Linked DNA regions of Homo sapiens. The protein of the gene in region 1 purifies or fractionates together with the protein of each later gene. This does not show direct contact. Each region holds a gene or a part of one and is shown on either strand. Other genes may lie near its edges.

The links.
Region 2: the proteins of ACOT12 (region 1) and ZMYM6 purify together in Homo sapiens (affinity purification with mass spectrometry; 2 studies listed by BioGRID and IntAct, with this or other methods). This does not show direct contact.

The regions. Positions count from the first base shown.
Region 1 is NC_000005.10:81,388,262-81,400,882, reverse strand, and holds the start of ACOT12 (acetyl-coenzyme A thioesterase), read left to right. Parts: upstream 1-6,748; 5' UTR 6,749-6,768; coding exon 6,769-6,895; intron 6,896-12,621. UniProt on the Homo sapiens protein: Catalyzes the hydrolysis of acyl-CoAs into free fatty acids and coenzyme A (CoASH), regulating their respective intracellular levels. Preferentially hydrolyzes acetyl-CoA.
Region 2 is NC_000001.11:35,005,619-35,017,808, reverse strand, and holds part of ZMYM6 (zinc finger MYM-type protein 6), read left to right. Parts: intron 1-2,646; coding exon 2,647-2,821; intron 2,822-2,920; coding exon 2,921-3,112; intron 3,113-5,227; coding exon 5,228-5,378; intron 5,379-5,803; coding exon 5,804-5,919; intron 5,920-6,772; coding exon 6,773-7,051; intron 7,052-7,211; coding exon 7,212-7,362; intron 7,363-8,884; coding exon 8,885-9,057; intron 9,058-10,710; coding exon 10,711-10,858; intron 10,859-12,190. UniProt on the Homo sapiens protein: Plays a role in the regulation of cell morphology and cytoskeletal organization.

The DNA.
Region 1 (12,621 bases):
TCCCCAAAAGCTCTAGGGGAGATTTCCTTCCCTGCCCCTTTCAGCTTCTAGTGGCTCCACAACACTGAGTCCTCACATGGTGACCTCGAGAGAAAGGAAAAAAAAAAAAAAAAGGCAAAGAGGGCCTACGTAGATAGTACTCTCCAGCCCTGTTACAAGGGCACTCACTAATACATTCATGTGGGCAGAGCCATCGGGACTTATCACTTCCCAAAAGGTCCCACATCTTAAAACTGTCACATTGGGTCTTAGGTTTCAACAGATGAATTTTGGAGGGACACATACATTCAAACCATAGCAGGCTCTGAGGATTCATGTCAACTTCCTCATTTTGATGGTGTGTTATGGTTCAGTAGGAGAAAGTCCTGTTTATAGGAAATTCACACTAAAGTACTTGGGGCTAAGCATCAGGTTGGCAACTTACTTTCAAATGGATCAGAGAAAAATATGTTCTTTGTACAGGACTTCCAAATTTTCTGTAAGTTGGTGATTGTTTTAAAAAACAGACCCAACTCAGCACTGATCTTAAGTCTAGTAGACGGTCAACAGCAGGTTATAATTTCAGGAGCTGCACACAGCCATCAGCCAGTTTCCCTATGTGCTTATCATTCCATTTCATCCTCATTAGAATAGTCAACATTATTTTGTAGCCATTTCCATGTTATCTTTAAACTATGAATTCTATAAAGTTCTAAGGACCAATCTATTTTACTCACCAGCATTTATCCAATGACCAGAACAGTCCTTGCGACAAAGTAGGCACTCAATAAGTATGTGCTGATTGAATGAATGAAGGTGACTTGAAATAGAGGCACCAGCATGGCCTTTGGAGCTAGAACTGGGCACCACTCCCATCTCTCCCACTTCCCATGTGTCCTCTGCACCACATGCATCAACTTCCTAGCCCAGCTGAACAAGAGCCAGACTTTCTAGATTTGAATCCTGACTCTACTACTTCCTAGTTATGTGGTCTTGGGCAAGTTCCATCAGTTTCCTCATCTATAAAATGGGAATTGTAGTAGTTTGTATACTTCATAGGGATGTGTGGCATGTTGTAAGTGCTTATGAATTATCTGGGCTTGATTTCCCAGCTCTTTAAAGAGAATATTACTTGCAAGGTTGTTGTGAGACTTGACCCTCCATAAATAGCAGTTATCATGATTCCATTTGATAATACTTTCTATGATCTAATCACAACTTTATGAAATAGGGAAAGCATCCCTATTTTGTTAAAAAAAAAAAAAAACAAACTAATGTGTAAATTGAGTGATACATTCGAGTTCAACACTAGCAAGGATAGGGTCTAACTCAGACACAAACACATCTCTCCAGACCCAAGACTGTGACCCTTTTCCCCGCATCACAAATTCCTTTACAGGTCTGAAAAGGCCCCCTGTTAAACTGAAGATGTTCTTGGGAAGGACTGCACTGTAAGCTTTACTCTTTTAAAGAAAGACACCATACGGCAGTAGTTTTTAACATACTGTGCAGCAGAAGCACATGGAAAAATTGTTAAAAACAGGTTATTGGCTGGGTGTGGTGGCTCACGCCTGTAATCCCAGCACTTTGGGAGGCCGAGGCGGGTGGATCACAATGTCAGGAGTTCGAGACCAGCCTGACCAACATGATGAAACCCCGTCTCTACTAAAAATACAAAAATTAGAATGGCATGGTGGCATGTGCCTGTAATCCCAGCTACTCAGGAGGCTGAGGCAGGAGAATCGCTTGAACCCAGGTGGCGGAGGTTGCAGTGAGCCGAGACTATGCCATTGCACTTCAGCCTGGCCAACAGAGCGAGACTCCATGTCAAAAAAAAAAAAGTTACTGGCCCCACCCCTGGAATTTCGGATTCAGTATGTATGGGTTGAGCTGGAAAATCTTGAGAACCACTCCCCTAAGGGGAAGTAGCTGAAAGCTGGCTTAGAAAGCAGGAAATGGTGTGGGCAGGAGAGATCTGGGGAAAGCCAGGGAGGCAGGAAGGGGCAGCTTTAAGAGCCAGCCAGAGAGGGGAGGGCTCTGCCAGATGGAAGAAAAAGCACCAGATCAGGCTCTAGCTCAATCTCAGTCTTTGGCAAATCACCTTTTCTGAGATAAAAAGGAGTAATTCTTTTAAAAACAAGCTACCACAGCTCACCCCATACGAAATAATTTGAGTACCCCTGTAACTGTTTCAAAAATCGAATTAATGGCCGGGTGTGGTGGCTCACACCTGTAATCCCAGCACTTTGGGAGGCTGAGGCGGGAGGATCATGAGGTCAGGCATTCGAGACCCACCCGGCAACATAGTGAAACCCCGTCTACTAAAAATACAAAAAATTAGCTGGGTGTGGTGGCGGACACCTGTAATCCCAACTACTCAGGAGGCTGAGGCAGGAGAATTGCTTGAACCTGGGAGGCAGAGGTTGCAGGGAACAGAGATCGTGCCATTGCACCCCAGCCTGTGCGCCACTGTGAGACTCCGTCTCAAAAAAAAAAAAAAAAAAAAAAAATTTTAAACTTCCAAAAAAAATCTTCAGGGCCCAGATAGTTTCACTGGAGAATTCTACCAAAAGTGTAAAGAACACCAAATATATACAGTCTTTTTCAGAATACATGGTGGGGGAACATTTCCCGATTCATTTTATGAACCCTGACACCAAAACCAGACAAAGACAGTTTTAAAGAAAGAAAACTGCAGACCAACATGTCCCAAAAATACAGACATAGAAATTCTTATTAAAATATTAGTAAATGGAAATCTGCAATATATAGAAAGAATTGTATACCATGAGCAAGTGGGATGCAGTATTTGAAAACAATGTGCTCCAACATATTCACAGGCAGTGGTGGTGACCGCAAAGGGACTCCACTGAGCAGTAATCAATGGCCTGGGATGAAAGTGGGGCCAAACAAATCTGGGGAAGCAGAAAAATTAGATTCTATACACATGGCTTTTGTTCAAACAAAATAAAGCTCTGTACTCCACACAAATGTGGTGGCTGTTAGGTTCTACACCTAATGCTTGACAGAAAGAAGGGGCCACCGGAAGTGCAGGGACAAACAGGAGCAAGGTTATCTTGAGGCTCCAGGTGCTAAGAGGGACAGTCCAAGCAGAAAACCCATTCCCCAAAGTCACTGCCATCCCTAGAGCAGGGTTCAGGGGCAGAGAAGGACAGGAGACCCTCCAGTCAAGAAGTTGGCGGCCAAAAGCTGAGAAAACCCATCCTGGAATTTTTGCTTAGGGGCTCTGAGTTTAAACTTTGAACCACATCCTTATAAATTTGTATTTGAATTTGGAAACACTGACCTGACACCTTTTAAAACATACCAAATGTAGAGAGAGAGTTTGATGGCTAATCAAGTTCATCTCTGTATGAAGTACTTGAACTAGCAAACCCTCTGTCTGGGACATATCTCCCACAATGGAAAGGCTCCCGGCTGCCTCTGCTGTTCAGGACAGTAAGGATTTTGGCTCTCTGCCTTGCCCACATGGCCACGGCACTCACCATTCTGAGTCCTAGTCCAAGCTGACAGCGTCTTCCTGTCCTACTGAGATAAAGCTCCAGCTGAAAGCTTGCTCTTGCTCTGAAATCTGCAGAAGTCCTGGGGAGTTCATCTCCTGGGACCAGCCCTTAGTCAATGAAGGATGCCAGTCAGAGGATAAAAACCCCAGGGTTCATGCCAGTGGGAGGGATGGCTGGGGCTGTTCTTCACAAACTGTAATGTGCCCCTGAATCACCTAGGAATCTTAATAAAATTTAGACTCTAATTCAGTAGGTCTGAGTTGGAGCCTGAAATTCTGCATTTATAATTTTTTCTTTTCTTTTCTTTTCGAGACAGGGTCTCACTGTGTCACTCAGACTGAAGTGCAGTGGCCCAATCATGGCTCACTGCAGCCTCGACCTCCTGGGCTCAAGCAATCCTCCCACCTCAGCCTCCCAAAGTAGCTGGGACCACAGGCATATGCTACCTTTCCTGGCTAATTTTTAAATTTTTTTTTTTTTTTTATAGAGACAAGGTCTCTCTATGTTACTCAGGCTGGTCTCAAACTCCTAGGATGAAGTGATCCTCCTGCCTCAGCATCCCAAAGTGCTGGGATTATAAGCATGAGCCAACACTCCCGGCCTGAGATTCTGCATTTCTAAGAGGATCCTAGGTGAGGCTGAGGCTGCTTACCTGGGGACTACACTTTGATGCCCCTACCAGTGCTTTCTGCAATTTCCTCCCAAATAAACTGTCTGCTCTCAAATTCTTGTCAGAGGCTCTGTTTCTGGAGAAAGCATTTTTTTTTCTACCTCTCTACTTATATTCCAGGTTCCTTGTTCTTAGTTTTCACAAAACCCAGCCACTACCTTACAATGTGACCCAAGGAAATCACTTCATTTCCTCATCTCTAGAATAAGAGTTTAGACTGTCCAGTTCCCCTTCCCACTCCAGCATTTTAAAGATTTTCTCGTTATTCTAGTGATTGTGGAACTTCCCACACTTTTTTGGATCAGCTTTCCTGCTCCTGTGTACAAACTTTTAAAATCAAGCTGGCTTCACATTCTGCTTATCTTCAAAAATGTCTCTAAACACAAATGAAACTCGACCTTTTATTCAAGCATAATAGTAAAAATCTTTGACACCAGAGAGAAATGGAGGTAACAAATGTTCATGCATGCAGATGACATTTTCATTGTAAAAGGAAGAAAGGGACCATTCAGAAAAACACAAGAATAGTAAAATGAAAATTAGTATGAAACCAACAAAAGATATGAAACCATAATCTGAAGACATCTAAACAGGAGATAATAAAGATAAGAAAACACAGCAGTGAATTTGTGTACCATGTCTGCTTTTAAAGCAACATCTCTAGACAAACACACAAATATACACATGCTGTCCCCTTCAAGAAAATCATTTTGGAAACCCATCCTCTTACACTTATGCGTAAACATTTTTGAAATTTCTTCTTCTTTTTCTTTTTTTTTTTTTTTTTTTTTGAGACTCAAGCTCACTGCAACCTCTGCCTTTTTGGCTCAAGTGATCCTCCTGCCTCAGCCTCCTGAGTAGCTGGGACCACAGGGACACACCACCACGCCCAACTAATTCTTGTATTTTTGGTAGAGAGAGGGTTTCACCATGTTGCTCAGGCTGGTCTTGAACTCCTGAGCTCAAGCAATTTACCTAACCTCAGCCTCCCAAAGTGCTGGGATTATAGGCATGAGCCACTGCGCCTGGCCTAAGTTTCTTTAGTTTATAAGAAACCAAGTATACAACCATACACATAATTCAATATCACCACTTTAGTCACCACTTTTTACCCAAAATAATACAACCCAGCCTAAATGCAAACTTTATTTCCAGTAATTTAATAAACTTCCCAAATATTAATACAGTTCACTCATGTAACTGTCAGCTATTGCTGCATAACAGACAACCCCCAAAATCACAGTGGCACACAACAATAAGTAGTTATGTCTCACTCAAGAGTCTTCATGTCTGCTGGGTTGCTCTGCTTCAGGCTGTGAGTCCTCCGGCTGGCTGAGATGCCTCTGCAATACGTGAATTCAGTCTGGTACCCAGATGCTAATAGGCAGCTACTTGACCTCATGGCAGAGGTCAGATGTTCCTGAGAACAGAAACACGGTGCTTCTAAAGGCAAGACTGGTGGTACACTGCTATCTCTCCACATTCCATTCTTAAGCAAGCCACATGGCCAAGTCCAAGGTCAATAAATGACTCTCACAGAGTTATTGGTAGATGGAGTGAATATATGATAATCTATCAATTCCTAAATTATGATTTCTCAATACAGAAGTCATTAAAAAGGCATTTTCCAAGGAGGAGTGCCAAAAGCGATGTAATAACGTTATCATTGAAATAAGTGTATAGCTACATAATGGGACCATCTTGGATGCACAAGTTTTTGTTTGCTTTTAAAAGTTATTTTAATGCCTTTTATATAAGTCAGACTTCATGCTTGCCTCAGTGAAAACATGCAATTCCTATTTATGATTGGATTGTCCTGAAACCTATACACAGAGGCTCCTAAAAGCTATCAAGTCAACATTTCCTTATTTCTTCACTTTCATTTTAAAAAAAATCTTTTAAAAAGGAAAGAAAAATACCAGAATCTCCATTCTGATGTCGCCATGCTGAGGCTTGGCAAGCCAAAAATATAAGGATGAAAAGGCACCACCAATTCGTGAGAGTCGGCTAGGCTTCTTCGTGCTATTCCGGACAGTCAGGAGCCCTGGGTTCCAGCCAGGTGATCGGGTCGCTTATCGGCTCCTATCACCTCAGCTGCTTGCTCCACTTCTCCGGGTTTCCAGTTCTCCATCGTAAATGTGCTCCCTGGAGCAGCCTCCCCTGACAGTCAGACATCCACCAATCCATTAGATGCTGGAGGTTTTCTGGAGACACTGTTTCCCTAATGAGGACTGCTTTGTACAGTCACTGATAGCAGCTCTAGAAAGTGTAACAGCTTTTTTATCTCAAAAGCTGTTCCTCGCGCTCCGGCTCTCGGGGAGCCGCCTTCCAGACCTGTCTACCCGGGAGCCCCCTCCCCGCGCACTTCCCAGACTTCTCCTGAGACCCGAGAGCGCTGGTTTTCCCCCACTCGCGATAGTCCTGGGATGACAGTGCGGGCCCCCTCACTCGCAGCTCCCACCACCTGGCGGCCAGGGGTTCGCGGCCCGGGCGGGCGGCGCCAGTGCCCTCTGGAGCTGGGCGGGGAGGGCGGGGCGGGCGGAGCGGGCATGGTGGGGTGTCGGGGGCCGCAGGCGTAGCGCTCTCGCCCTGGCCATGGAGCGGCCGGCGCCCGGCGAGGTGGTCATGAGCCAAGCCATCCAGCCGGCGCACGCCACTGCGCGCGGCGAGCTGAGCGCGGGGCAGCTGCTCAAGTGGATCGACACCACCGCCTGCCTGGCGGGTAGGCGGGCGCCGGGGCTGCGGGGAGGCGCGGGACCGGGGCTGCGGGAGCGGCGGCGGCTGGGGGCTGGGGGGGGTAGGAAGGCGAGGAAGGTACTTGCGGAGAGCTGAACCCTGCGCAGCCAGGGATAGGGGTGTTGCAACAGTGCGCCCGCGCTGGGCATGGCCGAGACCGGTGGTTCCCAAATGTGTGGCTCTCGGGACTCCTTCATTCCATTAAACAAGTGAGGAGCCCAGAGAGCTTCTGCGGGGTTTTTTGTTTGTTTGTTTGTTGTTGTTGTTGTTGAGCTCTCTCCCGGGCTGGAGAGCGGTGGCGCCATCAGAGGTCGCTGCAGCCTCGACCTCCTGAGCTAAAGCGATCCTCCCACCTCAGCCTCCAGAGTAACTAGGACCACAGACGCACGCCACCAGGCCCAGCTGACTTTGGGAGTTTTGTTTTGTTTTGCTTTTGTAGAGATGGGGTCTCACTATGTTGCCCAGGCTGGTCTCAAACGCCTGGACTCAAGTGATCCTGAAGTGTTGGGAGGCCCCAGCCTCCCAAAGTGTTGGGATTACAGGCATGAGCCACCGCACCCAGGCAGCTTTTGTTTATGTAGGCTATTTATATCACATTTACCGTAATGGAAATTTAAAATTTTTAATTATTTTTAAAAAAGAAATGGACTACATTGTTAGCATAACATTTTTAATTAAGAAATAACTATTTTCCACAAGAACAAAAGTGTAGCGAGAGGAGTGGTGATAAAGGTTACATCCTGGCGAGTCTCTCTAAGGTCTGGCTAGTGGAGGATTGCTGACTACTCATACCTGCTTCTGCATTCACCCTGCTGCTACCACACCCTTATGTAGTCTCTGGAAAACTCCACTGTGTTCTTGTGACAGAATGACAGTAAAAATGGCAAAAACATTTATTAAGGACTGAATTATATCCCCCACACCACCCACCGAAATTTATACACTGAAGTCCTAACCCCTGGTGTGACTCTATTTGGAGTGAAGAATTAAGGCTAATGAGGTCATAAGAGTGGAATCCTGGTCCCATACAATTAATGTCCTTATAAGAAGAGACACTGGAGAGCTTCTCTCTGCCATGTGAGGCCACAGCAGGAAGACAGCCATCCACAGGCCAGGAAGAGAGCCCTCACTAGGACCTACAATGGGCAAGCACCTCGATTTGGAACTTCCCTGCCTCCACAATTGTGAGAAATCAATGATTCGTTTAAGCCTTTTTTTTTTTTAACAGGATTTGAGATTGGTTATATTAACAATGGAAACATGAATACAAAATTAATCCACACATAGGAAAAAAGAATAATACATAAACCACTGAGGTTGCTAATAATAATGATGCCTGTTTCCAAGGCAACTGAATACATTATGAGACCACTGAAGTGACTTTTAGTTACCTTGCTTAGTGCCTCTGTCTTGTGATGGAGAAACAATGGCCCACCTGCAATTGTCATCATTTCTATGACCTGACATCTTTGGAAACCATGGAAAGATCCAATTGACAATCAATTACTCTATACCTTAATAGTTACATTACTATTAGTAGTATAATATTAATAACTGATAATGTTACTAATATTAAGAAAACCTGTATGATAAAGTTGGTTTGGGCAACATGAATAACGCCTGTGTTAAACACTTTATGGTGACCTGAGGCACCACATAAGCAGGGGACATTATTTAGCCAAGGTGTAACTGAATCTGTGTAGTAATATAAAACTGATTTCTCTGGGATTTTCTCAGAGTTTTTTATAGGCCAGCATTATCTCTTTAGCCACATTACTGCAATCCCAGTCATGGCCCCCAAGGCATTTCTATGACCCCTAGGCACTGCTGGATTCCAAAATGTCTTCTCAATATTTAAAGAAAGATGAAATATTCTCACTATCCTTACTTCTGTCAGTGGCCCCATTATTTTTCCAGTCCCTTAAGTCTAAAGTCTTGAAGCTATCTGAGTAATCCTCTATCTCACACGTCCATGTATTATTTTGGAACATCTCACACACACGGTTTTTTATTTGTGAATCTTTTCCAGGGTTTACTATCTCTGGAGTGGCACCCAACTCATCTAGTTGAGCAAGTCAAAAGTCTAGGAGTCATCCTTGATATTTCTCTCTCCACCTTACTTCTCACTTCACATACTCTATGCATGGAGCAAGTCCTATCAGTGTTACCCCCTAAAGGAGTCTCTGAAATCCAAGCACTTTGCTGCACCCCCATTGCGACCATCTACTCCAAGCTATCATCATGTTTCATGCAGACTTCAGCAGTGATTTCCAAACTCATCTCCATTCGTTCTGGTCTCCTCTCCACACTGCTTCTAAAGTAATCTTTGAAGATGCTAATCTGATTGATCATGTCATATGTTTTGTTCATTTTTCCCTTTCTTTTCTTCACCAAGGGCTTTAAGGATTTTTCTAAGATGTTCAAGTGCTTCCTACTAAAAAATCTCCCACAGATAATAATTATAAACTCTGGGCAAAACACTAAATAAAAGAGACTTAAGGCAGGTGAAAAGTGAACAAAAGTAGGCTTATAACACTTGAAAGTTAACACATGAAAGAACAAAGTGGTGTTGGCTTTTTCTGTGTTTGTTTTATAAATGACTTGAAGCCTGAAAGAAAATGCCAGTCTGCTCCCAGCTATAGTTCTGATGGAAAACCCACAGGCTTGCTGGTTTGAAGAGCCCAAAGACAGGGTTTGGGAAAAGCACAGCTACTGAATGAAATACAAAAGGGAAAGTTCCAGAAAGGAAAGAGCCAGAGAGACAGAGCCCTAAAATCTATCTATAATCTTTTCCCAGATATCTGGCAAATCTTGAATCATGTATACATAGGACAGACTCCAAACCTCCTGGTTGAGGCCAAAAGAACTGAAAATAGTTGTGCCCATCTCTAGGTAGACAGATTATAGTTTTGGTTTGGTCAGGTTAACTGCTTGCTTTAAAAAACAAAACCAAAAACAAAACCAACACTTTTCAGAGAAACACAGTTTCTACAATGGATCACTCACAATGGCTAGGATATTATCCAAAATTACTTGAAATACAGAGGGAAACATGATTTATTCTTAAGAGAAAAGATGATCAATGGAGATTCATCCCTAGACAACCCTGATGCTGGAATTAAGCTTCAAGGATTTTAAAGCAGCTAGTATAACTGTGCTCAATAATATAATTAAAAATATGATAATAAAGATTGCTGTAATCCCAGCACTTTGGGAGGCTGAGGCAGGTGGATCACTTGAGGTCAGGAGTTCAAGACCAGCCTGGTCAACATGATGAAACCCTGTCTACTAAAAATACAAAAATTAGCCGGGTGTTGTGGCAGGTGCTTTTAATCCCAGCTACACAGGAGGCTGAGGCAGGAGAATCACTTGAATCTGGGAGGTGGAGATTGCAGTGAGCCGAGATTGTACCACTGCACTCCAGCCAGTGCTGGAGTCTCATTTGAGAATGAGACTCCATCTCAAAAGAAAAAGAAAAAGAAGAAAAAGATTGAAAAGACAGTACATTTCTGCAGAGTAATAGAAACTATTTTTTAAAAGCCAAATGGTAATTCCAGAACTGAAAAATACAGTGTCTAAAATAACAAACTCAATGGCTAGGCTTAACAGCAGAATGGACATGGCTGAGAAAAGAGTTAGTAAATGCAAAAATACATCAATATAAATTATCCAATCTAAGAACAGAAAAAAATGAATTTTAAAAATAAAGTGTGGCCAGGTACAATGGCTCATGCCTATAATCCTAGCACTTTGGGAGGCTCAGGTAGGAGGATGGTTTGAGCCCAGGAACTTGAGACCAGCCTGGGCAACATAGAGAGATCCTGTCTCTACCAAAAAAAGAAAATGTTAAAATTAGCCAGGCATGGTAGCATGTACCTGTAGTCCCAGCTACTCAGGAGGCTGAGGTGTGAGGATGACTTGAGCCTGGGAGGTCGAGGCTGCAGTGAGCCATGATTGCACCACTGTACTCCAGCCTGGGTAACAGAGCAAGACCCTGTCTCAAAAAAAAAAAAAAAAATACATAAATAAAATAAAGTGTCAGAGATTTGTGGAAAAATAAAACATAAACATAATTAGAGTTCCAAATATGGTGAAAGACATACAATTACAGATTCAAGGTCATAGAACATCAAGAAAAACTAATACAGGCTGGGCCTGGTGGCTCACACCTGTAATCCCAGTACTTTGGGAGGCTGAGGCAGGCAAATCACCTGAGGTCAGAAGTTCAAGACCAGCCTGGCCAACATGGTGAAATCCCATCTTTACTAAAAATACAAAAATTAGCTGGGCATGGTGGCGCACGCCTGTATTCCCAGCTACTCAGGAGGCTGAGCAGGAGAATCTCTTGAACCCAGGAGGCGGAGGTTGCAGTGAGCCAAGATTGTGCCACCACACTCCAGCCTGGATGACAGAGTGAGACTCTGTCTCCAATTTAAAAAAAGAAAGAAAGAAAAACTAATACAAAGAATACATCCAGGCATATCATAGTCAAACTATGATGAAGAGAAAATCTTGAATGCAGCCAGACTGAAACACCGTATATAGGAGAACAACAATTAGAATTACCACTGACCTCATCAGAAACAGTGGAGACCAGAAGGCAGTGCAACAATATCTTGAAGAATAATAATTACAAAAACTTTGAACCAAGAGCTTCAAGGCCCTGTGCATAGCCTGTCCTCAGCCTTCACTCCAGCCTCATCTCACCCACTCTCCCTCCTACTCTCTGCATTGCAGTCACCAGGACCTTTGTAGTCACTGTTCCCTCTGCTCAGCAGGCCTTCCCCTCCTCTGCCCTCCAGCCTTCCTGGATACCCCACCTAGTGTATTATCTCAGTTACTGACTGTCATAAAATCCCTGTTTTCTTCAGAGCACTTAGTCCATTTTGTCATTATGTATCTGTATTAGTCCATTTTCATGCTGCTGATAAAGACATATCTGAGACTGGGTAATTTATAAAGAAAAAGAGATTTAACGGACTCACAGTTCCATGTGGGTGGGGAAGCCTCACAATCATGGTGGAAGGTGGAAGGCACTTCTTATATGGCGGTGGCAGGAGAGAAAATGAGAACCAAGCACAAGGGGTTTCCCCTTATAAAACCATCACATCTCGTGAGGCTTATTCACTATTATGAGAATAGCACAGGAAAGACCTGCCCCCATGATTCAATTATCTCCCACCGGTTCCTTCCCACAACATGTGGGAATTATGGGAGCTACAACTCAAGATGAGGTTTGGGTGGGGACACAGCCAAACCATATCAATATCCATTTAATTAACCTCTAGCTCATCCACTAGACTCCATGAGAGCAGGGGTCCTGGCTGTTTCCCATTGCCAGCACCTTACGCAGAGGCTGCCTTATATAAAATAAAACAAGTGTTCAATCAATATCTGCTGAAGGAAGGAAGAAATGAAGGAAGGTTACCACTATTTTTATCAGTCATCATTTCGTACCTACTTACAATCACTTAGCTTCTCTTTGTTCTCCCAGGAAATCAGAAACAGCTTTAGGGTTTTCCACTTCTGCTGGTATGAAGGGCAATCAAAATCAAGAACCAGAACAAGCCAGTCCTGTGAGTTCATGTCATCTAATTGACACTCGTTTAAAAACACAGCACGCATGTAATGACATGTGAAGCCAGGACCCTATGGTGGTCCCCATATTTTTTTTCCTTTTAGTTTAATGACCCTTGAAAATCAATGGTATAA
Region 2 (12,190 bases), on another chromosome or scaffold:
ATAAGGTTAGGAGACAGATTCTTATCTTTTCAGCATGCATTTGATTTTTACAAATTTTCAAAGGCTGCTTGATACCTTAATCAGGCCAATATATTAGCTAATTAAATTAAGTCATACTGTTAAAACATGATATTTATAAAATTAAAAGTTAAAAAATAGTCTAAGGGTTTATCTTAAGTTTTATCTTAAAAAAATTAGAAAAATGTTTTGAGCTATGTTATTGTTGGAAGGTGTGGTTTTTCTACGGTAAATGTTACGATATAACACTCATTTGCATGTGTAAGGTTCAGAGTACACTTATAATTTATGTGCACAGATTTTCATTATAAAGTCATTCTCTTTGATTTACATATTTTTACTTGCTATTTTTGTACTTATTATGCCACTGGCAGATTCACCTTATTAAGTGAAACTCTTTATTGCTCTGTTTTCAGTAGAAAAATCACTTTTCAAAATTAATACTTCATCTGTGTATAAGCATATTCTTTTGGTTTCTAAGATTTGCTGTCATATTTTTAAAGTTGAGTTTTAAAGAATTAAAATAATTTTTGTTGTTGTTATTTTCTCATGGTTTACCATTGAATATACCTGTATAATAAAGGTGCAGGATGGGAGGCAGGATAGTGGAATAATTAATTCCATAGACTAGAATCAGATTGCCTGGATTAGTATTTCAGCTTTATTGCCTACTAGCAATATGACTTTGACAAGCTATTTAACCTCTCATTCAGTTTCCTCATCTGTAAAGTGGCAGTTACAGTAATACTTAACCTTATAGTGGTTTGGGGATTTTTTTTTTTTTTTGAGACACGGTCTCACTCTGTCACCCAGGCTGGAGTGCAGTGGCGTGATCCCAGCTCACTGCAGCCTCTACCTCCCGGGCTCAAGCAATCCTCCCACCTCAGCATCCTGAGTAACTGAGACCATGGGCATGAGCCAGCATGCCCTGCTAATTAAAAAATTTTTTTTATAGAGATCGGGTCTTGCTCTGTTGCCCAGGCTGGAGTGCAGTGGCATGATCATGGCTCACTGGAGTCTTGAACTCCCTGGGCTCAAGCAATCCTTCTGCCTTGGCCTTCCAAAGTGCTAGGATTATGGGGGTGAGCCACTGCACTCCATCATTTTTGTGGTATTTAAATTGGGTAATTTGAGTAAAGAGAATAATGCTTGGCACATAGTAATTACTCAACACACTTATTGTAGTATATATTATTGCCATTATTATTTACTTTGTGGCCTGCACTAGTGTTTATAATTAGTGACTATTTCCTTTAGTTTTTATACTTGTCAGAAGAATGGCAATACTTAACCTCTGTTTTACCAGGGTATTGCTATTTGTGCTTATTGCAATAATTAGCTCTTACAAATTGGCTCTAGGAGTCTCACAGAACCACCCAATTATTTTTGTTCTTCCTGTCTCGTTCTTGTTTCCATCTGTCCTCTGATACAAAGCCTTAACAGCCCTTTTGTCATATATCATGCTTATTTTTTGTCTTCTGTTAGCTCATTTGTTTCTCAAAATCTTGCACTTTTAATTTTTAAACATTCATTTATTGTCTTGGCTGGACACGGTGGCTTATGCCTGTAATCCCAACACTTTGGGAGGCTGACGCAGGCGGATCGCGAGGTCAGGAATTTGAGACCAGCGTGGCCAATATGGCGAAACCCCGTCTGTACTAAAAATACAAAAATTAGCCTGGCATGGTGGCACGTGCTGGTGTCCCAGCTACTCGAACCGGAGGCTGAGACAGGAGGATCGCTTGAACCCAGGAGGTGGAGATTGCAGTGAGCCGAGATCGTGACACTGCACTCCAGCCTGGGCAGCAGAGCGAGACTCCGTCTCACAAAAAAAAAAAAAAAAAAGAAAGAAAAAATTCATTTATTGTCTCATTTCAGTTCTACTTTGGGCAGCCTCTGGCTAATGAGAGAACCAGTGTCTTGTGGTCTGGAGTTGTGGGATGGACACTGGTCCCATTGGCTATAGCAGATGAAACTTGGTTGGGGCTGGAAGCCTTCCTATTTTTGTCTTCAGCATCTGGCTGGCCACATATATATATATATATATTTTTTTTTTTTTTTTTTTTTGAGATGGAGTCTAGCTCTGTTGCCAAGGCTGGGGTGCAGTGGCACAATCTCGGCTCACTGCAACCTCCACCTCCCGGGTTCAAGTGATTCTCCTGCCTCAGCCTCCCGAGTAGCTGGGATTACAGGCGCCCACCACCACGCCCATCTAGTTTTTGTATTTTTAGTAGAGACGAGGTTTCACCATGTTGGCCAGGCTGGTCTCGAACTCCTGACCTCATGATCCGCCCACCTCGGCCTCCCAAAGTGATGGGATTACATGCATGAACCACCGCACCTGGCCCTGGCTGGCTATATTTTAAATATAATTCACTCTTGACAAATTTATGAATTAGATATTATAAGCCCCATTTTATACATGAAGAAATTGAGATAGTAATTACATCATTCATTGTCACTCACCTGATAAATAGCAGAACTCATCAAACCCAGGTTTGCAGATTCCTTATCCTTTTTCTACCATACAGTACCTGCCCTTAGTAAGTGTTATTTCACCTCACAAAGAGGAGGAAGTTACAGTTGTGAAGAATACATTTCATTTTTACCTTTGTTATTTATTTTTAGAGACATTTTAAATCCTAAGGATGTGATCACAACTCGCTTTGAGAATTCCTATCCTAGCAAAGATTTCTGCAGCCAATCATGCTTGTCATCTTATGAGCTAAAGAAAAAACCTGTTGTTACCATATATACCAAAAGCATTTCAACTAAGTGCAGTATGTGTCAGAAGAATGCTGATGTAAGTTACATTTTACTTTTATTGGGATTCTGCTGAAAGAGATTTTTTTTTAACTGGCTCTGCTTATTTTGTGTGTGTATGTGTGTGTTTATTTCCTAGACTCGATTTGAAGTTAAATATCAAAATGTGGTACATGGTCTTTGTAGTGATGCCTGTTTTTCAAAATTTCACTCTACAAACAACCTCACCATGAACTGTTGTGAGAACTGTGGGAGCTATTGCTATAGTAGCTCTGGTCCTTGCCAATCCCAGAAGGTTTTTAGTTCAACAAGTGTCACGGCATACAAGCAGGTATGAATATCTATTTGTTGCATGTACTTAGGCCCACTCCTTCTGATTTGGCTGCACAGGGATGAACTACAAAATGAGAGTGAGCTCCTCCCATTAGTCCATCCTGATATGTGATTTCCCTTCCAGAAAATGGGATAGATTCTGATGGTGTGAGGGATGATTGTGGTGGTAAGTTGATATAGGTAAAATAGGTCCCTTTTTTAAGGCTCCCTTCATAGCTAAGAATTTACAAATGTGATTTCTTTTCTTTTTTTGAAATCGAGATAGGGTTTTGCCATGTTGCTCAGGCCGGTGTTGAACTCCTGAGCTCAAGCCATCCACTCGCCTCAGCCTCCCAAAGTGCCGGGATTACAGGCATGAGCAACCACACCTCGGCCTCATAAATGTAATTTCATGATTTTCTGTGAGCATGAAATATTTTGTGATGTATTGATAGCAAGAAAACCATATTATAAATAAACCATAAGCAAGAGTTAAGATGATAAAATCAGTGAATCTAAACAAAGCTTGTCTTTTTCATTTCAAAATGTGTTTGGGAATGAATTGTAATTATTTGGTCAACACTGTCTCATGAGAATACTTCAAGTAATTTTATTTATTGTAATGAATAATGGATTAAGCCGGTTACTAAATATTATCACCTTGTGTCAATTTAATTATTACTAATTTGTGGTTTTAAAAAGTTTTTCTTAAAGAAGTATCTTGTAAGGCCGGCGCGGTGGCTCACGCCTGTAATCCCAGCACTTTGGGAGGTCAAGGCGGGTGGATCACGAGGTCAGGGGTTCGAGACCAGCCTGACCAACATGGTGAAACCCTGTCTGTACTGAAAATACAAAAATTAGCTGGGCGTGGTGGCGGGCGCCTGTAATCCCAGCTACTCAGGAGGCTGAGGCAGGAGAATTGCTTGAACCCGGGAGGTGGAGGTTGCAGTGAGCTGAGATTGTGCCACTGCAGTCCAGCCTGGGTGACAGAGCAAGACTGTCTCAAAAACAAACAAACAAACAAAAAAAAAAAACAAAGATGTATCTTGTAAATGATAATTAAACTTTTTTTCAGTTAGCAAGTTTGATTTGTTGCTTCCTTTGAGCAGTTGGTAATGGACATATGGACATTCATCACTGAAAAGAATCTCTTTTTTTAAGATTTGCCATTTTTGGCAGTCTGGTTCTACTTTCACAGGAAAAGAATCCATGTTATTTTATATATGATCCCAAAATCAGTTCCATTTCTAATTTTGTTACTAGTATTGTACTCTGTCTTTTTACTAGGAAGATTATGTAGTGAAACCTCACAATTTATATTTTCCTACAATTTCTTTTCATATTGAGAGACCTTATAATGTATCACTGACAGCATAGTGTAGTGGTTAGGAGCCTGAACTTTGGAGCCTGATGAAATGAGTTTAATTTCCTACTTCTTCTGCTCATCTGTTAATTTAAACTTTTTGTTAATGTAATTTTTGAGAGCGCCTCACTCTGTTGTTGAAAGGTTTCTGTGATACACTATATATAAATTTCTTAGCCTGGGGCCTGACTCATGGTAAGCATTCAGTAAGTTATAATATTGGTTATGTAAATGGTAGCTATTTTTATTATTTCTTAAAACATGAATAAACTTATAAGCAGATTTTATTATGAAACTCAGCTTGAAAAATAGGTAGTTGTGTAGGATCTCTATTAATATACATTAAATATCATTTCTATCTCCTGCTAAAGAATCTCACAAATTAAGTAACCTTAAAGGTGGTAGACTCTTCTAGATTGATGTACAAGACTATACCAAGAATGACCCTTTGGTTCATGGGTTAGCTGGTCTTCTCTGGTTATTGGTGATTAAAAAGTATGTAATGACTATTTAATTCATTACTTGTGTTTGAATTCATGTGTTTTGTTTGCTAAGATCTCTATCTGAATAGTTACTAATTTTCTTCAGTTTCTATTTTATTGTTGTCTGGAAGAACTTATTTTCCCACCTCCCAATAGTGTGGTTTCATCATCATGCTCAAATATTTCAACCAAGGACCGTGGTTGTAGGTAGCTTTTCTTTTTACTTTTTTGAACAATATGTAAATATGTATGTTTGTACTAGGTATCTAATGTTATTTTATTTTAATAGAATTCTGCCCAAATTCCTCCATATGCCCTGGGGAAGTCATTGAGGCCCTCAGCTGAAATGATTGAGACTACAAATGATTCAGGAAAAACAGAGCTTTTCTGCTCTATTAATTGCTTATCTGCTTACAGAGTTAAGACTGTTACTTCTTCAGGTAATGTTTAAATTTGATAAATTTATAGATTTAATAACTATTGAAGAAAAACGTAACTGCTTTTCTCTGATTTTGTTACAAGCTAAATTTATCTATTTAGTTAAATAAAAACCCAAGACTGACTTTTAAATAACTGACTTTTATGTGAAAATAGTTTTTCCCCGATTTTCTTGGTTGCAATATATACAGTATTTTATAATTTCATATGTGAGAGGAAAGAAAAAACACTTAAAATTTCCAAGTTAGTTTTTGTGTAAGTGGGACTTAATAGAGGTTAGTTGTGGTTAGATTTCAGATTTTTATAAAGTTCCTTGATTTTTTTGGTATATTATTGATTATTTAATTTTTTCATTCTCCCAATACATTTTTGTATTGTTTGTTCATTGGTATAACTTAATCATTGTTTTTAATTTTTTGTCACCAAGGTGTCCAGGTTTCATGTCATAGTTGTAAAACCTCAGCAATCCCTCAGTATCACCTAGCCATGTCAAATGGAACTATATACAGCTTCTGCAGCTCCAGTTGTGTGGTTGCTTTCCAGGTATGATCTAAGGTAGCACATTATGCATGTGGTTCTGTTAGGCATCGATCTGTGGCACAGTGTTAACTGCTGAAGGCCTGTTCTTATGAAAGTTTAAATTTGAATTAAAAAGAAAAAAATTTGTTTCATCCAGGGGCCCAACCAGGTCATTTCTACAAAATATCTGAACCCAGATATTGGGTCTCAGCAGTTTCTTCTTTATTTAGGATCCTAGCCTAAACTGTCATTCCCTCCCACTTTCTCCCTTGGGTCTCTCCCCTTCAAAAAGATGGAAGCTAGGATTGTGGTTTGGGTAGGTGGTATGGTGAAGAACAGTAGCCTGATGGGATTCACATACCCCTTCCTCTCATCCTGTGTCAGAAACACAGTGACTCCTGGCATGGAATTGTAAGCATCCACTTGTCCCATTTTCTCCTCCCTCTCTGCAATACATACACAAAGAGTAGAGTTTAGTAATCTCCAGGGTAGGAACATGCCTGATGTAGTATCCCTGGCATTAGGGAGAAAGAGACTGCTGGTAGCTATTGTGTCGTAGTAGCCATCAGAAGCTGGTTGATGATGGGAGTGCAGGTAGGGGGAAGTTTTAGGGGGAAGGAGAGGCCTGCTCTAATTTATTAGAGGCATATACTGGAGGTCTTTGTCAGGAAAGCCTGAATTCCAGTCCTTGACCTTTTAATGTTGTATTTCTCAGTCCTTTTATTCTGGAAATATACCATTTAAACTCTTTCTGTGAGATAGAAAATTTTAAAAAATGTTTGTGGGAGACTTGATTTATTAAAATGAGGAAATGAAAAGTACAAAGTTATCTTATTTCTCAGTTGATAAAATCTTTACCTTATTTGTTTTCATTCAGAATGTATTTAGCAAGCCAAAAGGAACAAACTCTTCGGCGGTGCCCCTGTCTCAGGGCCAAGTGGTTGTAAGCCCGCCCTCCTCCAGGTCAGCAGTGTCAATAGGAGGAGGTAACACCTCTGCCGTTTCCCCCAGCTCCATCCGTGGCTCTGCTGCAGCCAGCCTCCAACCTCTTGCTGAACAATCCCAGCAAGTTGCTTTAACCCATACAGTTGTTAAACTCAAGTGTCAGCACTGTAACCATCTATTTGCCACAAAACCAGAACTTCTTTTTTACAAGGTAAAGAGAGATCATGAAAGGGATTGTATATAAACTCATCCAGTAGAAACACTTTTGTGTTTTCAATTTTGATCACTCAATTTGCTTTGACATGAAAAGGAGTTCTTAAAGATAAAGCAACTGTTTAGTTGGCTCTTAATGGACTGTTGTTTCTCTGCAGGGTAAAATGTTTCTGTTTTGTGGCAAGAATTGCTCTGATGAATACAAGAAGAAAAATAAAGTTGTGGCAATGTGTGACTACTGTAAACTGCAGAAAATTATAAAGGAGACTGTGCGATTCTCAGGGGTTGATAAGCCATTCTGTAGTGAAGGTAAAGACAAAGTTGTTTTATTCACAGAGCATGGGTTGTTATAATTCATGACGACTTGGGCAATTAAGCCATGATTAGTTTTCACATTCTTTTTGTCTTACAAGGTGTAATTAGAAGTATTTTGGAGGCCGGGCATGGAGGCTCACGCCTGTAATCCCAGCATTTTGGGAGGCTGAGGTGGGTGGATCACTTGAGGTTGGGAGTTCAAGACCAGCCTGACCAACATGGTGAAACCCCATCTCTGTTAAAAAACACCGTCTCTATACAAAATTAGCCGGGCATGGTGCCGCACGCCTGTAATCCCAGCTACTTGGGAGCCTGAGGCAGGAGAATTGCATGAACCTCAGAGGCAGAGGTTGCAGTGAGCTGAGATCATGCCATTGCACTGCAGCCTGGGCGACGAGCGAAACTCTTGTCTCCAAAAAAAAAAAGGTTTTTTTGAATTGTGTTTATAGTTAATTCACTTTAAAGTCAATCTTTTTATTTATTATTTTTGTTTGTTTATTTTTTTGAGACAAGGTCTTGCCCTGTCACTCAGGCTGGAGTGTGGTGGCATGATCTTGGCTTATTGCAGTCTCTGCCTCCCCGGTTTAAGGGATCCTCCCACTTCAGCCTCCCAAGTAGCTGAAGCTACAGGAGCGTGCCACCATGCCTGGCTAATTTTTTTTATTTTTGGTAGAGACGGGGGGTTTCACCATGTTTCCCAGGCTGGTCTTGAACTCCTGAGCTCAGGTGGTACTCCTGCCTCGGCCTCCCAAAGTGCTGGGATTATAGGCGTGAGCGACTGTGCCTGGCTGAAAGTCAGTCTTTTTAAATGTTGCAGTAATTGCAATAAAAAACTGTAAAAATGATTACATCAGTGGTATTAATAAAGAAAATCTCTTCATAAGTTTAGCTATGACATCAGAGATCTTTTTGTTCTTGCACTCATTTGCGAAGAGGAACTTAAAACAGTTGCTGCTTCTTGGCTTAAAAAACTTTTATACCTCTAATGTTTCTGAATATAAATGGCCTAATATTTAGAGTATATTTAAAAGGTGGTGGCAGGGCGCAGTGGCTCACGCCTGTATTCCCAGCACTTTGGGAGGCCAAGGCGAGCCAGATCACCTGAGGTCAGGAGTTTGAGACCAGCCTGGCCAACATGGCGAAATGCCATCTCTACTAAAAATACAAAAATTAGCTGGGTGTGGTGGCAGGTACCTGTAATCCCAGCTGCTCTACTCAGGAGGCTGAGGCAGGAGAATCGTTTGAACCTGGGAGGCAGAGGTTGCAGTGAGCTGAGATTGTGCCACTGCACTCCAGCCTGGGCAAAACGAGTGAGACTCTGTCTCAAAAAATAAAATAAAATAAAAGGTGGTATGAGTTTGGTTTGTGAATATAGAGACTGTCCTGTAATCTAGAGGCAAATAATTGTGTATTAGAAATTAGCTTAAAGTTTCATATCTAAGACCACAGAAACTTATTATACCTCCTCAGTTAATGTAAATTTGATTTTTCTTCCTTTCATCCCTCTGATCCTCAGTTTGCAAATTCCTCTCTGCCCGTGACTTTGGAGAACGATGGGGAAACTACTGTAAGATGTGCAGCTACTGTTCACAGACATCCCCAAATTTGGTAGAAAATCGATTGGAGGGCAAGTTAGAAGAGTTTTGTTGTGAAGATTGTATGTCCAAATTTACAGTTCTGTTTTATCAGGTAAATGTGATAATATACTTTTTTTGGCTTTCTGAAATCAGTGCAAATTGTTTTTATTTAAAATGTATTCAAATTATGTGAAGAAAAATTTGGTGTTTAGCACTGGATAAAATAAGTTATGGGCTATAATAGAAAAATTCAATTGAATATAAACAGGAAATCTTTGGGATAAAAAGTATAGGATTTCTGCAGACTTTGTTGTTGGTTGGATATGTTCCTTTTATTTTTGCCTTCTTATGAGGCACTTTGCCCTTATTTGACTTCTTTCAGGTTAGAACTTCACATAATGTTGCCTGAAGTGGCTCTCTCATTCAGGTTACTCTGAGGAATTTGAAGTTAGACCTTGTCTCACTTCATAGGTCAAAGGACAATAGCTGGCAACCATTCCTACCTCATTTTTAAAAAGATTAACTTTTTGAAAGGCTAACAATGGTAGCTACAGTTAATTGAACCACTAATACATGTCTGGTGCTCTGTAAGTGTCATTTCATTTAATCCTTACCATAGTCCCAAGAGGTAAGTATATTACTGCCATTTTATAAATAAGGAAAAGGAGAGAGGTCCAGGGAAGTTAAGTAATATGCTCTTGAGGAAGCTGGTAGGTGACAGCAAGACAGCATCTATAACACTCTGGTAAATCACTGTTTGTTTTTCTACCTCTAAAAAAATAGAATTTTATTGTTGGGGGAGGGTAATATATTTTTCATGATTATATAATTAGGGCCAATCACAGTGCTTAAGACAAAGGATGTCTAATTAAATATTTGCTGAATGAATCAAAATCTTTATGACTCCAAAGCCCATATTATATCAACTACTGTAAGCTGCTGCTTAATTTTTTAGAAGTTGAACCTATCTTTATTTTTTTTTTACTTACTTTTTTCATTGTGTATCTTTTCTTCCCCCATCCCACCTGCCCACCCCCCATCCCCCAGCCAGACAGAATCTTGTTCTATTGCTCAGGCTGGTGTGCAGTGGCGTGATCAGTGGGCGATGTTGGCTCCCTGTAGCCTCTGCCTCCTGGGTTCAAGTGATTCTCCTGCCTCAGCCTCCCGAGTAACCAGGAGAGGTGGGCACCACCATGCCCAGTTATGAACCTATCTTTAGATAGATTCCCTTATTGGTAATTTTGAAAACAGAAGAGCATTTTTTTTTTTTTCTATTGAGACAGAGTCTTACTCTGTCACCCAGGCTGGAGTGCAGTGACGCGATCTCGGCTCACTGCAACCTCTGCCTCCTGGATTCAAGCGATTATCTTACCTCAGCCTTCTAAGTAGCTGGGATTACAGGCGTGCGCCACCACACCTGGCTAATTTTTGTACTTTAGTAGATACGGGGTTTCACCATGTTGGTCAGGCTGGTCTTGAACTCCTGACCTCATGATCCGCCCACCTCGGCCTCCTAAAATGCTGGGATTACAGGCGTGATCCCACAATTACCGTGCCTGGCCACAGTTTTTATATTATCTTGATTTAGGGCATCTATATAAAACAAATAATTAAATAAAATCAGTATTTTAAGGTAAGAACCTTACATTTTGTAGTCTCAACTGACTCATATATCCTGTTTTCGTAGTCCCTCTTTTTATGATTAATGTTATCTTTTCATTATTTTATAGTTTTAAGCCTATCTTGTCTAACATTTCTTTTTCAGATGGCCAAGTGTGATGGTTGTAAACGACAGGGTAAACTAAGCGAGTCCATAAAGTGGCGAGGCAACATTAAACATTTCTGTAACCTATTTTGTGTCTTGGAGTTTTGTCATCAGCAAATTATGAATGACTGTCTTCCACAAAATAAAGGTAAAATTAAACTTAGCTAATGGGATTTTTATGTCAGTGCTAGGACACTATCAGCATATACAGTTATAAATAATATAATAAAAACAAAATTTCATTGGATTCAAATAGCCTGAATTTCCTTAAATTTTTCTTTAAGAAGTCTTTAAGATTTCCCCTTGAGGGAAAAGTAATTCTAATACTTTTTGCTCTGATAGTCAAGCACACCAAAAGGCCAATAATGTATATGCACTAATTTTTATAGGAAACTTAGATTTGATTGCTTTTTGATTGAATGTATCTGTACATAAATAACTTAAACTAGGGATATATACTATTTAGTTAATAAACCAGAAATAAAAACAGAAAATCAGGGCAAACAAAGGGAGAGTATAGTTAATATAGTTGCTGTGACTAGTGTAAAATTTGTTTCAGAGCTTGCTTATAGGCAAGGAGAAAAGAACAACACGTTAATTATCTCAGAAAATATAAAATGGAACAGTTCTTCATGGGTAGCAAAGTTTATCCTAGCTAAGAATAAAATAATTTTGCAAGTAGGACAGCTAATATGGTCAGAATATCCAGGTGAGTAGATAGATCCATGATATATTCATAAAGTAGCTCTCCTAAGTATTTCTTTCTAAGTATTAGATTAAAAACATTTGGTAGCCAGGTGCAGTAGCTCGCACCTGTAATCCCAGCACTTTGGAAGGCTGAGATGGGCAAATTACTTGAGGCCAGGAGTTCGAGACCAGACTGGTAAACATGGTGAAACCCCATCTCTACTAAAAATACAAAAATTAGCCAAGTGTGGTGGTGTGTGCCTGTAAGCTCAGCTGCTCAGGAGGCTGAGGCACGAGAATTACTGGAACCCAAGAGATGGAGGTTACAGTGAGCCGAGATCATGCCATGGCACTCCAGCCTGGGCTACAGAACGATATTCTCTCTCTCAGAAAAAAAAGCCACTTGCTATTATGTTCTCTGTTCAAAGCCTGGAGTGCTACCTGATTGACAGAGCTTTGGCTCTTTGCAGTCTGGCCATTGCCTACCTCTGCAGTCTTATTAATGATTACCTTAATTATAAATGCCTTGTGCTAATCTTTCGTGTTAGCCCTCCATTCCCCAGAACCAGTCAGGCTGGTAGTAGAATATTCATTTTATAATATGGGTTAAGAAAACTAGTGTTATGGGGTTGGACAGCTCCCTCATTAACTTATTTATAAAAATTGTCATGTTAAGTTTTTATCTGATGCATGCTTAGGTCTAGGAGTTTTAATAGTCACTAATAGAACAGTCCAGTGAATCCTGAAGCTAATACCTGTCTTTTTTTTTTTTTTTTTTTTTTGAGACTAGGTT